2 separate regions of the Homo sapiens genome follow, and region 1 is reported to be linked to region 2. The links are microRNA targets in miRTarBase. Many come from high-throughput screens and were not tested one by one. Region 2 holds a microRNA gene; the other region holds the end of a gene's coding sequence.
The links. The annotated mature microRNA hsa-miR-3194-3p reads AGCUCUGCUGCUCACUGGCAGU and lies in region 2 at 1,463-1,484, opposite strand. An mRNA with a match to its seed (bases 2 to 7 or 8) in the 3' UTR can be bound and repressed. Matches are read on the target gene's strand: a 7mer-m8 pairs with bases 2 to 8, a 7mer-A1 pairs with bases 2 to 7 and ends in A, and an 8mer does both.

Region 1 (3,000 bases), not on the chromosome of region 2:
TTCTAGGAGATAAAACAGAGAATGGGAGGTGGAGGTATCTGAAAAGACAATGTATGAGCATTTTCAAAAATTGAAAAATATGAGCCCTCAGATTGAAGTGACTTGAACAAAATTTCCCATTTATCTATTTACCAAATACTTCTTGGATGTCAGGCCCTGTGCTAGGCTTGGCAGGTACAATGATGATAACAGCTGACTAGGAGAAGGGCTGAAAGTTAGGGTTGGAAGCTGAGCATTGAGGACCATATAAAATGAGGACTATAAAATGAGGACCAGCTGAGGATCATATGAAATGTGCATCAGCTCTCCATACCACCTGAACAAGGCCTGGAACAAGACCTGGCCAGGGGTTGCAGTGGGGCTGGGCTGCAGATGGTCAGGGCTCTGCTCACCTCACCTCTCTCTCTCTGTTCCTTTCTCCCCCTCTCCCTGTGCCCACATCTTGCTGCAGGCTCCCGGGCAGAGAAGAAAGCAGAGCCCCCACCTAGCAAGCCCACGGTGGCCAAGACGGGGCTGGCACTGATCAAGGATTGTTGCGGGGCCACCCAGTGCAACATCATGTAGCCCCCACGTGGGGTGCCCTGGGCCATGGGGACCCCCCCCCACCCTCTTGTCTTTATAGCCCCCATTTCACCGGGGCCCAAGAGCTCTCCAAGGCAGAAGGGGTTGAAGGCAAGCCCGTGACTGTCACCAGAGGCCATGGGCACGGCAGGCGGGCCTGGCCACCCTGTACAGAGTGTAGCAGTAGGGAGTCTCTCACCGTCGCATGGTCCTCCCCAGAGCATGCCGAACCCAGGAGTCTGTCTCACTGTTTATCCAAACACCAGGAAAGGTCCTCCCTCAAAAAAGCATATCTCCACTTCTCTCTAGCTGTATCTAACCCACCGTGTGAATGAACTGGGAGAGGGGCATGCTCCCCAGCTGTGTGTAGTCGTGACTTCTCAACAATCTAGCACCATGTCGGACACGTTCCCCATCCACCCTCCTAGCTCTGCTCTCAGAGCTAGGCACATGGGCACAGGTCCCCTCCCGTCTGTCCTCTCCCAGCAACTGTGCCCTGGAGGGCTCCACATGGCCCCCGTGTCTCTCGGGCACCACCCATATAGCAGTCCCAGAGGGCCCATCTGTAAAGATCGAGCTTGTGTGTGGTGTCGTGGTCACATCTCCCGCTTCCCCCCATCCTGTGTCTGGGCACAGTTCACATCAGGACAGCGTCCATTGTGCTCTCAGTCTGCCTCAGGTGTGTGCCTGGAGGGGGCCTGGACTGGCATGGATCCAGTGTGCAGAAGAGCCAGCAGGGAACCGGAAGCTCTGATGTCAAGGCCAGAGCAGTTGAGAATGGGACCCAGAGTAGATGCTGACCTGGGCACTCCACCATTCCGGGGCCACCACAGAGATGCCAGCAGGATGCCACTTTGCCAGCCCGACACACGGACCTTTGTAAAGAACAGCAACAGGCAGGAGAGGCAGCGTGTGACCAGATTGTGTCCCGTCATTGGGTGGCATATGTTAACTAGCTGCCAAACAACTTCAACCCGTGTAATTCATGTACATTTGCAACAGCCAGCCCGGTACAGCCTGTGTGACTTCTCTGTATGTGTGTGTGTGTCGTGACCAGCCTAAGTAGTTAGCATAACTCAAGATGCTGATGTGCAGTCACCCATCAGAGAAAATAAAAATGGAAACCACGTTCACAGCATTTTAAAAGTTTTTACTTTTTTTCTTGATTATGGAAGTAATCCATGTACATAGTAAATCATTTTAAAAGTACAAAAAGTATGAAGAAGTTTGTCTTAAAAAAAAAAAAAATTATTCCTCCAACTAGAGACCACTCTGATGTTTCGACGTTTTAAAAAAGTCTTTTTTTGTGCATTTTTTCATCGTTGACATCATATTGTGGTATCATTTATAACCAGTTTTTTCCTACTTATTATACCACCATCTTCCACATCATTAAAAGCTCTTTGTAAACATTAAACACTCTTCATAAATCATGCCAATGTCTGTTTAGTAATCCATCTTGTGGATGTACTGTAATTCATCTAATCATTTCCTCACTATTGGATGTGTAGACTGGTTCTAGGTTTTCTTATAAATAGTGTCTTGGATTAGCCAGGCATGGTAATGGGTGCCTGTAATCCCAGCTACTTGGGAGGCTAAGGCAGGAGAATCACTTGAACCCAGGAGGCAGACGTTGCGGTGAGCCGAGATCGTGCCATTGCACTCCAGCCTGGGTGACAGAGCAAGACTCCATCTCAAAAAAAAACAAAAAAAGTGTCTTGGGCCAGGCGCTGAGGCGGGAGGATTGCTTGAGTCCAGGAGTTCGAGACCAGCCTGGGCAACATGGCAAAACCCTGTCTCTACTAAAAATACAAATAGCTGGGCATATGCGGTGGCGCGGGCCTGTGATCCCAGCTACTTGGGAGGTGGGAGGATTGCTGGAGCCTGGGAGGTTCCAGCTGCAGTGAGCCATGATCACACCACTGTATTCCAGCCTGGGCAACAGAGCAAGATCGCACCCCCTGGAAAAAAAAAATAGTGTCTTGATAAACATCTAGGGGGATAAGGTTTCATCTGAATTTTTTATTTTTTCCTTAAGATAAACTCCTAGAAGTAAAATTATTGGGCCATTCATAAGTAGCATTTTCAAAATATTTGTAAATTGGCTGGGTGCGGTGGCTCGCATCTGTAATCCCAGCACGTCGGGAGGCAGAGGCAGGCTGATCACTTGAGGCCAGGAGTTCGCGACCAGCCTGGCCAATACAGAGAAACCCCATCTCTACCAAAAAATACAAAAATTAGCTGGGTGTGGTGACTTGTGCCTGTAATCCCAGCTACTCAAGAAGCTGAGGCAGGAGAATCTCTTGAACATGGGAAGCAGAGGTTACACTGAGCTGAGATTGCGCCACTGCACTCCAGCCTGGGTGACACAGCGAGACTTCGTCTCGAAAAAAAAAAAAAAATTTGTAGATCAAAAGGTCTTTGGTTGGACAGGCCCTC
Region 2 (3,000 bases):
GTGGGTGGAGGTCAGGGATGCTGCTGAACATCCTGCAGTGCCCAGGACAGCGCCCCTGCCAAGTCATTATCTGGGCCAAACTGTCAATAATGCTGAGGCTAAAAATGTGGTATAGACCAGGGGTCTTCAATCCCGGACCACAGACCGGTACTAGGCGCACAGCAGTAAGTGGGTGGCGGGCGAGAGAGCAAAGCTTCATCTGTGTTGACAGCCACTCCCCATCACTTGCATTACCGCCTGAGCGCTGCCTCCTGTCAGATGAGCCTGCCATTACATTCTCACAGGAGCATGAACCCTACTGTAAACTGCGCTTGCCAGGGATCTAGGTTGTGCACGCCTTAGGAGAGTCTAATGCCTGATCATCCGTTACTGTCTCCCGTCAACCCCCAGATGGGACTACCTAGTTGCAGGAAAACAAGCTCAGGGCTCCCAGTGATTCTACATGATGGTGAGTTGTATAATTATTTTATTGTATATTACAATGTAATAATCATAAAAATAAGGTACACAATAAATGTAATGTGCTTGAATCATCCTGAAACCATCAGCCCATCTCCCCAACCCTTGAAAAGAACTGTCTTCCATGCAACTGGTCCCTGGTGCCAAAAAGGTTGGGGACTGCTGGTGCAGAGTCTTCTTGCCTAGAGCAGACTTTACCTTCATCATCTCTGATCCCTCAAGCAACGCTACTCCTCAGCTCACTCCTCAACTCACTGCCACCTGGGTACGTGTGATTCAAATCACCAGAGGCCCCCCAATCACTGGACTCTCAGGCTGACCTCGGGCTCTGTGACCTTCATAGCACTGCCTCTGCTGACCCTTCCCAAGTCTCCTTCCCCTGGTCTCCAGGGCACCAGACTCCCCTGGTTCTCCTCCTCCTGCTGTGACAGCTCCTCCTCTGCCACCTTTAAGGGATGTGGCTCTCAGTTCTCTAAGCCTCCCCTTCTCCCACTGGAGGCCATCCTGGGAGGTCGGAGCCAATTCCCAGGACTTCACCTCAGATCTCATTGCTGACAGCTCCCATGACAACATCTGCAGCCAGGATCTGGTTTCTTAGTCTAGACCACGTGGCCACATACCCACCAATCTCTTGCCTTTCCACAGAGGTGAGATCATGGTTCATCCAAGAAGGCCCATGGGTACATGAGACTCAACGCTTCCACTTCCAAAATGAAACCCGTCCTCCCTGCCCAACCTCATCCCCACACAGACCTCCTCTCCTGTGTGCTAAATCTCAGCTGGCCAAGTGCACCACGTGAACAAAACAATCTCGACACTCAACCTCTTCCCCTTCCCCATCCACAGCAGCTCCAGAAAAACAGCAGCAGCCCCTGCCCCTTACCGAGCACTTCCGGTGCTAAGCCCACTTGCTCTAATTCATTCAGACCTTACCTTTGTGGGTAGGCACTGTCACTGTCCCTGCTTTTCAGGGGATAGATGATGGAGAGTTTCCGCAGGTGACACTGCCAGTGAGCAGCAGAGCTGCCCGGGTGGCACGCAGCCCTCCTGGTGGCTGGCCCTGCCACCTGCGTTCTTAATGCCTCTCTACACCACTACGTCCCATCAAACCTCAGTGACATCTGCCTTCTAAACCACTCCCGACCCATCCCTGCATCTCCCTTCCCCACTGCCACAGCCTTACTTAATACCTTTTTTGTTATTTTTCGCAAAGGCGTCATCAAACCCTTTTAAAATAAATTCTGCCTCTTGTTATGCTTCCAACTGTGAGAATGCAGTTGTCACACCCCGGTCACATGTCCAGCCCATCCCAGAAGGATGATTTGTGCGAGACTGGAAGAAGCACTCTTTGCCTAAGACAGTCTGCTTCCCCCTGCCAGAAGTTGTCTTACTAACGTGTAAACTGGTGATGTATCCAATTTGAATGGCAGCCCTCAGAGGAGGTGCCCTTGTACAGTGCACAATCCCTCCAACTGGACAACTCACCTGTTATATTCTCGGATTGTTCTAAGGACAATAAACAAATAGACAAACATCAACACCCCTTTGAAGTAACCTACTGAAATCATGTCTGTTAAGGAAAAGGAAAATTGGTTCTAGTATCCAAAATAAGTGTCCCAAGTTATTTGAGCTAATTTCCTTCTAACAACACATTTGTTTCATTAATTATTGCTTAATCTGATATTTTCCTACTTCAGATCAGCATCTTTTCTACCACATACCCACTGAAAAAGACACCGATAGTACACCAAAGGAAGAATACACGTGGTGAATAAACAAAACATTATGCGTCTCAGAGCAAGGAAATGCAAAGTAGAAAGAAGTACCAATTCCACAATGATTCCTTTTTAATTTAAAAAAATGGCATTTCTGGGATGGGGGTGAAACTATGACTGACATGATGGCAACTTCAATTTGTAGATTTCTGGAAGGTAATTTAGCAATATGTATTTAAAGTCCTCAGAATGACTATCCAAAATTCCACTGCTGGGAATAAACCCTAAATAAACTAAAAAGATATACATATAGATTCATGTACAAGATTAATTAATCCTAGAAGTATAAGCTGATTCACTGCAGAACTACTTATAATAAAAATACAAGTAGCCAATATTAATTGGCTTATGCTGTACTTGGCACTATTATAATTACGTGACATGTATTAGCTCATTTAACCTCCATGACAACTTTATGGGGTAAGAAATTTTAACGGATAGGTAATATGCCTCGGATCACCAAGCAAGCAGATAACAAACCCAGAATTTGAACCCAAGATATCCAGGGCCAGAGTATGCATGCTTTATCACTGTGCTGTTTGGCCTCCCTTCTTGATAATAGCAAAAAGTTTTAAAAATTTCCTTCCTTATGTAAAAAAGTAATTTTAAAAAAAGGATTGAGGGTGGGAGATAATCTCATTTTCTGTCAAAATGACCTAGAAGAGTTAAAATGTAGAATGGCACATTCATGCAATGGCGAATGGTATGGCCATCACAATCCCTGAAGACACGCTGAGTAAAAAGAGCAGGGTATAAAACTGCACGG

Region 1: the mRNA of BMERB1 is a reported target of hsa-miR-3194-3p. Seed matches in the 3' UTR shown: 7mer-A1 at 778-784 and 7mer-A1 at 1,325-1,331.

What each region holds. Positions count from the first base shown.
Region 1 is chr16:15,586,266-15,589,265 of GRCh38, forward strand. It overlaps BMERB1 (bMERB domain containing 1), which reads left to right. Exons shown (of 6, transcript NM_033201.3): 6 at 452-1,994. The coding sequence ends at 564. It overlaps MPV17L-BMERB1 (MPV17L-BMERB1 readthrough), which reads left to right. Exons shown (of 6, transcript NM_001414674.1): 6 at 452-1,994. The coding sequence ends at 564. Among named protein-coding and RNA genes, the nearest start is that of MIR6506, 23 kb to the right of the region's middle. RefSeq lists an enhancer at 819-1,320.
Region 2 is chr20:51,451,450-51,454,449 of GRCh38, forward strand. MIR3194 (microRNA 3194) reads right to left here and starts at 1,528; the gene lies at 1,456-1,528. All of the region lies in intron 6 of NFATC2 (nuclear factor of activated T cells 2), which reads right to left.